Linked DNA regions of Homo sapiens: all the other regions are linked to region 1. The links come from fine-mapping of genetic effects on gene expression. A gene starts in region 1. Each other region holds a variant in brackets. All regions are shown on one strand. Distances are between the middles of the regions.

The links.
Region 2: its variant is fine-mapped to the expression of FAM53B in whole blood (TOPMed, PIP above 0.99).
Region 3: its variant is fine-mapped to the expression of FAM53B in whole blood (TOPMed, PIP 0.95).
Region 4: its variant is fine-mapped to the expression of FAM53B in whole blood (TOPMed, PIP above 0.99). The same link has a PIP of 0.9 or more in putamen.

The regions. Positions count from the first base shown.
Region 1 is chr10:124,742,747-124,745,425 of GRCh38, forward strand. FAM53B (family with sequence similarity 53 member B) reads right to left here and starts at 1,632. Exons shown (of 5, transcript NM_014661.4): 1 at 1,267-1,632. RefSeq lists silencers at 511-590, 681-890, 1,211-1,370, 1,421-1,530, 1,551-1,600 and 1 more.
Region 2 is chr10:124,651,155-124,653,833 of GRCh38, forward strand. The region is part of intron 4 of FAM53B (family with sequence similarity 53 member B); the gene reads right to left. Among named protein-coding and RNA genes, the nearest start is that of FAM53B-AS1, 52 kb to the right of the region's middle. RefSeq lists an enhancer at 40-149. The variant C/T (reference allele first, on the strand shown) is at 1,169.
Region 3 is chr10:124,693,485-124,696,163 of GRCh38, forward strand. It overlaps FAM53B (family with sequence similarity 53 member B), which reads right to left. Exons shown (of 5, transcript NM_014661.4): 3 at 2,674-2,679. Among named protein-coding and RNA genes, the nearest start is that of FAM53B-AS1, 9.2 kb to the right of the region's middle. The variant C/A (reference allele first, on the strand shown) is at 1,035.
Region 4 is chr10:124,619,677-124,622,355 of GRCh38, forward strand. It overlaps FAM53B (family with sequence similarity 53 member B), which reads right to left. Exons shown (of 5, transcript NM_014661.4): 5 at 1-2,679. Among named protein-coding and RNA genes, the nearest start is that of FAM53B-AS1, 83 kb to the right of the region's middle. RefSeq lists enhancers at 533-662, 2,015-2,515. The variant C/G (reference allele first, on the strand shown) is at 1,203.

The sequences.
Region 1 (2,679 bases):
GCTCCTGCAAGGCGAGCGCGGCGGCGAAGGCGACGGCACAAATGCCCACCCCAGGATCCCAGACCCGGAATGCAAGCCATTCCGGGGGCCACTTTCCTAACACCACCGAGTCCGGAGATTGTACCGTATGGAAGACTCGGAGTGTGGCCTATAGGAGGCAGAATCCCATTCATCAAACGCTGCAAAGAGCTTTTCTTTGTTCACCATCGTCCTAAGTACAGTACGTGTTAATGAGCCCGGGCGGTCAGATGGAAGGAGCTCGGCTTCAGGGGGCGTCCGAACGCGAGGGACCCGGGCAAACCTGTCCGCGCGGTTCGTCGCTGCTGCGGCGCCCCGGCCCGTACTACAAGCATTGTTCCCCAAGTCCGAAAATGGGGGTGGAGAGCTGGGGGCTGGGGGACAAGGTGGGGGGGCGGGGGGAGCGAGAACACACTTGGGACAACACAAACCGCAAACCCTCCCCGGATTCTGGGTGTCCTCGTTTCTTTCGTCTCTGCCCCAAGAGAAACCCTGAGCGGGGAACCTGACTCCCACGGGCTTGCAAAATCCAAGACTAGCAAAAATGTGACTCGACCAGTGTGCCTGTGCCGGACGGCCCTTCTCGCCATGTGCAAAAGCCACGCCGGCGCGGACGCCCCCACTCCGCAAGCCCCAGCGGTGGCCTCCCCGCGGGCTTCCCCCGCCCGGGACAGAATGCCCCCTCACCCCCATCCTGACCGCCCCGGACAGTCCAGCAGCAGCGGAGCCCGCCGCCTCGCTCCCGCACCCCGGGGGTGGCGGGTGCAAACTTCCGCGAACAAAAGAGTTGTCTGCAAACGATGCGGGAACTTCGGGGCGAATGGGGCCGCCCGGCTCCCGAGACTCCGCGCCTCCTCCGCAGCGGCTAGTCAGGGCTCAAGTTGAGACGCGGAGAGGACACCCCCGGGCGCAGCAGTCCCCGCGCCCGCCCGCCCTGGCCTGGGGAGCGCAGACTTTTCCGCCGCAGCCAGGCTTGTTCTTCCCCATGCCTGTGCTCTGACAAGTCTCACGCCTGCATCAGGGGCGAGACCGAGCGCCCGGAGAAACCGCCCGACCCAACCCAAAGGCGAAACAAGGCAGAAAAAAAGGAAACCAGCAACATTAGGAAAAAAGAAAAAAAAAAGGCAAGCCCATTGCGCACGCGAGCCGGGCTCCCTCCAGCCAGCGGCCGGGACGCACACGGCCCGGACCTCGCTCGGGGCCAGCCCCCCGGCCACCGCCGCCGCCGCCCGGCCCCGGGTCGCTTACTGTGCGCGGCGGGGCGCTCCGGGCGCGGACCCCGCGCCGTCACCGCCAGCGCTCGCCAAGTCGTCCGGGGTGCCCGCCGCGCGTCCGCCGCGCGCACGCTCGCCTGCCGGCGCCGAGCGCTTTGTACGAGCGACTCCCGGGGAGGAGGAAATCGACTTGTCACTTCCTGAAGTGTTTGCAACTCGTCCCTTTAACCGGCACCGGCCAGGCCGCCCGCACCCGCCGCCGCCGCGGAGCCGCCAGACCGCGGCTGCGTGAACTCGGCCCGGCGCTTAGCGGGCGGTGTCGCGGGCCCGGGCGCTAGGCGCGGCGGCGGCGTGCAGGAGGCAGGCGGCGTGCGGCGGCGGCGGCAGGCGAGTGTGCAGTGCGCGCAGCCGCCGATGGGCGGGGAGTGAGGGACTCGCGGCGCGCCGCCGGCGGGGCTAGAGGGCGTCCTGCGGGCTCAGCCGCGCGCCGCTCGCCGCGCTCGCGCCTGCGAGGCCCCGGGACGCGGGAAGTGGCCCCGGGCCTGGGCCGCGCCACCGCGGCTGCCCGGGCCCCGCGCCAGAGGCCCTACGGGCTTCTCTCCCCGCCCCCAGCACGAGCCGGGATGAAAACGCTGGGCCGCATAGGCTTCAGGCGTCCAGCTTCCGGGTTGTTAGATGCCGAGGTTCAAAAGAAACGATCACTTCAGTGGCGTGCAGGACAGCGGGCGGGTGGGGTCGGGGAGGGGGGACCTTAAAGTGTTGTCACACTTTGGGAAAATAAAGCGCAAATTTCCTAACTCGGGGCGCTGTGACTGTGTACTTCAGAAGCCACATCCAAAATACATGCAACTGGCGAAGGAAGGATTTGTGGTTGCTAAGCAGAGGCAGAGCATGTTTAGTTCTGTAACTTAGGATGTTGACTTAAGTTCAGGAATGTAACCCTGATAGAATAAGCAGAGTATTTTCATTGTGCTGCTCACCTGGGGGAGGGGGATTGTTTTCCTTGTGAAGCCCTAGATTTCCCATTACTCCTTCCTACTGGTGTATGTTATTTTATTGACCTTGTATCCAAAAAGCGATTTTTAAAGAGAAGTTTTTTTAAAACTCCCTATGCCTGTTTTGTGTTCTCCTTTGCCAAAAAAACAAAACACCTCATTACTTTACATGGATTGTGTCTGCGCCATTTGAATGGTTCTATTCATAAATAAGGAAACTTTTTCTGTTGCTTCTAGGAACATTTAATTGGTTTTAATCCAATGTTTCAATCCCAGTATCAAACATAAATGAACAATTAACTTCTTGAGCTTTGTGTGCTTGGGAAACTATTATATTTCATGGCTATTGCTGAAATATTTCAGAATATCATCACACCGGACCCATTCTTTTCAGAAAAGCATGAACTGACATCTCCTTTCACACTACAGCTCGCTCCACTGAGTTCTGCTGC
Region 2 (2,679 bases), 92 kb before region 1:
GCCGGCCTCGGTTTCTCCCTTTGTGCCACAGGGAGACAGAGCCAGGTGGCCACCACCTTGCCCTCAGACGCTCTGTTGTGGCCTTGCTGCTAGCCTTTTCCAGGAGCTGAGGCCCCAGGGCCCTAACTCAGTTCCCTCGTGTTCCATTTCCCTCTGCACCTTCCCAAAGGTGCAGAAGGAGGCTGGAGGGGTGCGGCTGAGCAGAGGGTGCTGCCTGGCATCCTCCTGAGCCTGCTCTGCTCTGTCCTCCCAGCTACACAGGACAGGCAGGGATGAAGCTAAGAGGGCTGCCAGGGGAGGCAGTATAAAGGCATGCTGTGGCCCCTCACTGCTGAACTGCAGGCACTGTAGCAGGGAGCCCAGCCGCTGGACGGAATCACAATCCCACACACGGCACCAGGGACCTGGACTATGCACCCCACTCCTCCTGCTGCTCTCCCCTGCCACCCCCACCTCCGAGACAGTGAGGCCCAGCGGCCTCCTCATTTCCTCCTCAGGGGAGCACTGTGGAGACTGTCAGCTGACTTCCGACCCTGGGGCCTGCCTGCTCTGGAGGGTCAAGGTCAGCAGAGCCCCACAGATGTCTAGCCCCTGCCTCAGGTCGGCAGTGACTGGGCACTGGCACATGGCGGGGACACGCCACCCCTGCTGTCTACTATGACTGGGCCTGGAACGTTCACGCCAGCCCCAGCGTCAGGACAACTGCGACTGAGGGCGGTTCTCAACCCAGACAGCCTTTGCTTGCTGGTTCCTTTATTTGTCCCCCATCTGTGAAGCATCTGTGGTCCACCAGGTGCTCTCCTGAGCAATGTGAACTCAGGGGCCAGGAAGCGAGGCCCCTGCCCTCCAGGAGTCCCTTTCCAAAGGGCATACCTGGAGAATTTCAAAGCCAACATCAAAGTGTGATAAGCACGAGCATGCTTTTGAGGCTGGAATTATCCCCTCTAGTTTTTCATTTATAGTCCTCTCTTCCACTTGGGTCCCAAGACTTTCCCAAGTTTGTCCCTGCCGGTGTCCAGCAATGGTTATGAAAACCCGCAGAGGGAAAAGCTATCAATTCCCAACTGTTTCTACTCAGTAGGTGTCAACCATAATACCAGGGCTTAGGACTAGCCAGGGTCTTACCATGTGCACAATACGTTCACATCCAGCCGTGCCCAGGGGTGAA[C/T]TGAGCAAGGAACTCATGCCCAATTCACAGATCAGGAAACTGAGGCCCTGGGCAACACCGGGATGGGCTGAGTTCATGCTGTTGTCAGGTGTCAGAGGAGGCTGTGGCCACAGCCTTAGAGAGAAGAAGGGGCCCGGCCCACAGCTGCACTCACATCTGGTCCCAGCCTGTCACCCACGGTGATAACCCTGGGTGACCATGGCCAGCCACTTCCCTCCTCTGGCCTCAGTGGCTTCACCTGCAGAGGCAAGGGGTCCAAGGAGGTGAGTGACATTCAGTGTTTCCTGGTGCTCACATTCCAGGGCTATCACAAACACCAGTCCCACAGGTAGTGGGAAAGGACAGTATGTATTTTAATGACACAAGGAAGCCTTGTGGTGGAGGGCCTGAAGCAGCAGCATTCCCCATCTGTCCTATATGGCTCCAGTTCGGGGTCCACTTCCTTCAATATGGAAGGTAGCAAGAGTACCCAGGGAACGGCCGAGCAAACCACAGAAAGGCAAAAATCTACTAGCTGGAACCCTCAGGCTAGTCCCCAGGGCAGAGGAGCCTCTTGCCTCTCCAGCCCACACAGGCAGACGACGCCCTGTGTTGGTGTGTGCTCGACCAATCAAAGGAGCTGTAGACAAAATGGCCCTACCTTCCCTTGTGCACCCAGATGCCTTGGCCAGGAGGAGACTGTGCTGCCAGGCCCTAAGAGGTAGGACCCACGTGCCCTTGAGGCCAGGACAGCATTTTTCAACCAGGTCCCGGAGGGCTCTGCAGATAACTAAGTTAAACAGAGCCTTGAGGGCTGCCTGCCTCACCTCATGTGCCCCAATGACACTGGTAGGGCCTTGCTCTTCAAAAACTATTTTGATAGGATTTTTATCCCTGCTCAGTGAATGGGGAGAAGCCCATAGGCTTGGATATGTTTCTCAGATGCAGCCCCAAGCTCAAGGCCAGCCAGGAGGTAATGTCCTCCAGATTTCCAGAAGAGCTGTGCCTGAGGCTGGGACAACCAGCTTCCTTTATGCCAGGAGGGTTGGAGTAAAGCAGGGGCTTGCCAGAAGGGCTCTGGCGTGGGGACCCTGATGGACTCAACAGGGGCATCTCACAGAGCTGAAAATACCCAGGCACTGCCAGGGTCCCGGATGGCCAGGCCTCACTCTCCGTGTTACACTTTCAAGAGGTCTTGCAAGAACAAGATGGGCTGCGGGCCCCTGCCAGGACACTGGCCCAGCTGACGGCACTCATCTGTAGGGCAAAGAGGCCCAGCTGGGTCTCGCTGGCACAGTGGGGTCAGACTCATGAGCCAGACTTGGGTCAAAGCCCTCTCTTAACCACTATCTTCTCAGGGTAACCTTGGCCAGGACCCTCCCAGTCTCAGCCTCGCTTTCCTTGTCCACATGGCCCACGCAGAGCCTATCTCAGAGGGATCCTGTGAGGAAGAAATGAACAGGATGCAAGAACGCACTTTGGGACCTCCAAGGTGCTGGACAGATGGGGGAGTCCATGTGTGGCCAGGTCTG
Region 3 (2,679 bases), 49 kb before region 1:
AAAGCAGGCACACCTCAGATGAAATCTCGCTGCCTGGGTGGAGTGCACTCCCAGTTCATGGAGCACACGGAGGACTGGAGAGGTAACCTGAGCTTCCACTAGACAGAGTGCACGGGGTAAGGCTCCTGACTGCTGACACCCGCTCCGCTCCAGCAAGCGCAGGAAAGGGATAGAGGTGGGAGGGAGGATGTGTGCTAGTGTGTGGCCGTCTCCTTAAATCCTCACAACTTGCAAACTGAGGAAACCTAGCCGGGAAGATGGGGTGGTATCCCCATAGCTCAAGGGCCTCCACATCTCACGGGAGTTGGCCTAAGCAGTGCAGAATTCACTGTTCGTTGATCTTTCTCCTCCACCAGACAGAAAGCTCCCTGAGAGAAGGGGCAGGGTCTGATTCACTCTATCCCTCACCAGGTGCCTGACACACAGCAGGTGCTCAAGTCATATCTATGACAGCAAGCCACTGAAAATGAAAACAAACTGCAGTCAGTGAAACACGTCAGTGATGCACAGCCATGCAGGTCAGGGTTTTCCTGAATTAGGGAGGGGCCGACCAACAGAAAGATGAGACCCATGGAGAGAGAGCAGCAGAGGAGAACAAGGGGACTCCACAGACCTCCCACCAGTACAACGGCTCCCCGCTTCTCCCTCTGCTGCCTGGCAGTGCCCTGGCACTGTCCCACAGAGCAGAAGGAAGACAGGACCCTGCTGAAGAGGAGAAGAGCCTGGGACGGAGGCATTGGGACCCAGCCAGCACTTCCTAAAGAGCCACTCTGTAAACAGGAGTCTGCAGACACAGCGTAGTCCCTCCTGGAAACCATGGCCTCCCCGGTAGAAAGCAGGTTGCTGGGCTCTGCAGCCTCCGATAGACTCTCCTGGGCCATCTGGACTTTTTCCCACACACCTCCCTTCTCCGGGGCCTCTGCCTTGGTCTCTGGGCCTCAAGACCTGGCCCTACAAGGGCGACTCTCTCTGTCATCACAAACCCACCAGACTTCCACCTTATTATAACTTACACAGTGCAAAGACTAGAAATC[C/A]TTGAAATAAAGACCAACATCTCCACAACCCAGTTTACTGGTCTGGCCCGGTTGACAGCTAAAGCCTAGGCAGGGTTGAGGGGCTGGGCATGCCGGGGCCTCTCTCTTTCCCAGCATGACGCAGGAAGGAAGCGCAAAGGTGAGGTTGTCCCAGGAAGCAGGCGAGGAGGCAGGCTTCTGAGCTATGTGTCTGGGGCCCTGAGGGTTTGCTGAAAGCTGTAAACCACCGGGGAGGTATTCAATCCTGTGGGGACGGGCCTCCCAAGTATGTCACATGGAAAACCAGGGCCAGCTGATCTCCCTGTCTCCATCTTCTTCAGTGGCAGCATCAAGAGCACCGCCAGGTGTCCCAGAGCCATGGCAGGTGGTTGAGAAGAAAACAGTCTCCCTTCGTCACCCACCTGAGTCCAACTCCGCTTACTGAGGGACCTTGCAGAGGGCCACCTCACTAGACCTCAGTTCTCCCGTATGTGAATGATGCCACTGGCAGAGCCAGCGGGGCCCAGCATGTAAGGAGCCTGGCACAGTGCTCAATCTGACACATCACCTCATCTATGGCAACTGTATCTGAAGAAGAAAAACAAAACACCGCACATGGAGGGAGGACCGAGAAGGAAAGGCAAGGGAGACTCTGAGGTCTGACCAAAGTAACCTTTGAATCTGAAAGCCCACAGTCATCATCATCTATCATCTGAGAGTGGTTTCTGAGTCCACGCAGACGTTACAGAAACTCATCCGGCAAGACGTCCCCAAAGGTGGGCAAGGAGAGCCACAGAGAGACACTGAGAGGTCAAACAATGCCCAATCATCTGAAGCATCAAGTAATCAATGGTCATCTTTTTTACCGCCTATAAAAAACAGTAATTCACACTTGCACAGAAACAGAAGATCAAGGCAATCTTCTCTGGAAGGCATGTCAGCAAAATGAATCAAGAGCCTTAAAAATGTCCCTGCCCTCCAGCCTGTCTATTCCACTCCTGGAAACTATCCTAGCAAATCATCACAAAGGCAGACAAAGAATTAGGCACTTACCTAGCCACTGTTCATCACAACAGCAAATAAAACAGCCTCTTGACCCAACAGCCTAGATGTAGTTACATCACTAAAGACATTCTGATACATTTACCACCCAATGCGGTACTGTAGACCATTAAAATGCATGGAATGAACAATTTTAATGCTGTGGGAAGATGATGGTAACTACTCCAAGTGAAAAAAGCAAACAAATATAGTTTTACATAATTATATGTTCATCGTGGAATGGGCTATATAAAAAATGCTAAGAACATAAACATACACAAAAATATCAACAGTAACTCTCCCTGGGCATTGGGGCTACGAGAGATTTTTATTGCATACTTTACACTATTGTGCATTTTCTGAATGAAAAAAATCAACATGAATTACTTTAATCATCAGACAGAAATTCTCAATGTTGGAGTTGTAAACCACACACCAGTGCCTGTCCCTTCACTCAGGCACCGTAGGGGACCAAAATAGTTAAAACACACAGAAGAGTCCCGGGGCTGCTCTTTTTGAACTTGTGTCCAGAAAGTGCTTTGAGTGTCTCACCTGGAGGACTCAGACCCTGGCTGGAAGGACTAGGAGGACAGCTTCCAGGATGGCCTTGAGTACTTACCCATAA
Region 4 (2,679 bases), 120 kb before region 1:
CTTCTTTTCTCTTTAAAGAGGCATGACAGAGGGGTTTGACCAACAGCGTGGACATGGCAAGGTGTGGCATCATTGCCAGTGTGGGGCCAGAGGGTGCCCGAGCCCCGGTGCGCGGCCAGCCTGCTGCATCCCTGCCGGCTGACGTCTGGAGTGACCGTCATTCCAGTGACCACCCCCATAGCCACAGACGGCACGTCAGTGGAAACGGGGGTGCAGCAGGCATGACACCAAGGCAGAGCCCGCAGCAGGGGGCCCGGGGTTCCACAGCTAGGGAAGCTTGCTCAGACAGGCAGCACACCCAGGGCACGGCCACTCACGCCCCCGCACCAGGAGACCCATTTGGAAGTTAGTTAGGGTTTGTTTTGTTTTCTTTTTAATGTGGACTTCCCCTTTATTTAAATTTTCTTTCAGTGTACAAATTCACAAAACTGGCTACAAAAATTTGGTTGAAAAGTAAGGCTTTCTGAGAATGAAAATCTGTACGTCTGGTCAGAACAAGCTCCCCACGGGCCCAGGTGCACGTCTGCCCGTGCAAATCCGGCCTCCACCGCGAGTAAGGCAAGAGGGTATGGCAACGAAAATGGCAAGGCTGTGGCCCCAGCCCCTGGGCCCCACGGGTGGACGGCAGCCCCTGGCAGTTTGGTGGCTTTGGAATGAGTGGGGTGCATGTGGCACTAAGCCCCCCCCACCGCCCCGGCTTTCCTGCAGGCTTAGCCCGCGCTTTAGGACCCCATGAGCAGGCAGATGGCCTGGCACGGCTTGCTTCTGGCTCTGCCCTTCCTCAGTCTCCCCTCAGAGGCAGGGTTTGTGGGCAAGGCTGTGACAAAAGTAAGGCTCCTGCCACTGCCCCCAGCTGGGGCCATCATGCTGGTGGGGGTGAGCTGTCTGCCTGCTGCCCATGGGGACACCAATGTGGGGGGCACCTCCTAGGCGAACCTCCCTCCCAGAGGACTGAGATCAGAAGTCCTGGGGCCAGCAGGGTGGAGTGCAGGAACAGGCTGCTCCGGGCAGTGTGGCAGCTTGGATGATGGGGTGGCACCTTATAGATAGGGTCTACTCCCTCCAGTCAAAACACAAACATGAAACCAGCTAAAGGCCATTTCTTTCTCTAAGCAGAAGGGATAGCCACCATTTTCTCCCCTGACTGCTGCGTGGTGGGCACAGGACAGGCAGGCGGGGTCTGAGGAGGCTGGGTCATTTCT[C/G]CCTAAGCGCCCTGGGGCTGGGCTTGCTGGTCGATGGGACCAGCTTGCGGGGAGGTGGGGAGGTGGCTGTGACTCAGCCAGCTCCACAGCTTGTCCCTTCCTGCCACCAGGCCTGAATGGGGAGGTGGCAGGCAAGGTTTGAGGGCAGGTCACCCACACCCCAGTCCCACGACATATACCTGTCACCATGTGCCTCCCACCCCAGCCCTAAGCAAAGGTAGCTGGGGGCTGCTGCATGCCTCAGCCTCAGCTGGCACCGTCCACCTCCCTCACTGCCTCTGCCTTCCACAGGAAGGCCTGCTATAGAGGCTGTGTGCCCTCGGCCACACCGGGCATGTGGTGCCAGGACCCCCCACGCCCAGTGGTACTCCGGGGGCAAGACATGGCCATGTGCTCTCCACATTCACCCAACAACTGCCCTGGCCGCCTCCACATTTGCTCTAAGAAGACATGGTCTCCATGACCCCCAGGCAGGGACAGGCCAAGATGTCTCTGTCTGCTCAGAGCCACCAGCTCTTGGGTTCGGCTGTCCGGGATCACAAGTAGACATGCCTCCGGCAGGAGCTACAGCAACCAGAGGTGAGCTGGTTCCCCGGCTCTGGGACCTGCCCAGTGCCCGGCATACCCCATGTGTCAGCCACCTGAGCTAGCAACACCATCTCTCAGGGCTGTGGGGCTGGGGGCTTTCTGCCAGCTCCTTAAAGCTGATTTTTAAGAAGTGCCACCCACATATTGGGAACTTGAACCACCATCCTTTTGATGTAGTAAAAAAATAAGATTTAAACAACGTTTCCCAAAAAGCATCTTTCTTGAGGAGAAAGAAGGTGAGAAGCATCTGGACTCAACCTGCAGAAGCGAGGCGTTCACTCGTCCATGAAGACGAGCAAAAGCAAAGTGACTACAAAAGTGCTTTGAACGCGCGTGTCAGCCAACACAAGGGAGCGCACCAGTTATTTTTAGCCTTATGGGAAAATGAGCCACTTGCTCCTAAGCCAGCCCAATTGCTATTGTTTGCAGAAGACGCCACATTCGCTAAAAGCCAGATTCCCATAGAGCAGAGCCCATGTGGTGGTGTCTGCAAGGCAGCCGGAGAGGAGCTACAAACCTTGAGAGGAGAGCAAACCCTCAGGGGGCTAGGCTCCTCGGATGCCCCAGGGTGAGGAGCCAGGGTGGGGTAGGGGCAGGGAGCATGAATCCAGCTTTGTGCCGGTGGCTGGGCCTACAACAGAGATGCAGCCCTCAGGACTGGGCTCCCCCTAAGCTGACAAGGGCGTGGGCTTGTCTTGAGGTGGGTGATGTGCCCTGGTTACAGCCAGCAGTCCTCAAGGACAAACGGGAGGTGCCTGGAATCCTGCAGGGGCCCCTGCAGAGTGGCCAGCGGACGCCCTTCACCCCTGAGTGCGCATAGGGCCCTCATCTGCCCACCTGCTCGCAGCTCCCGTCTCCCGAGGCCGTTTTCAAGAGGCTGCCCTGGTAT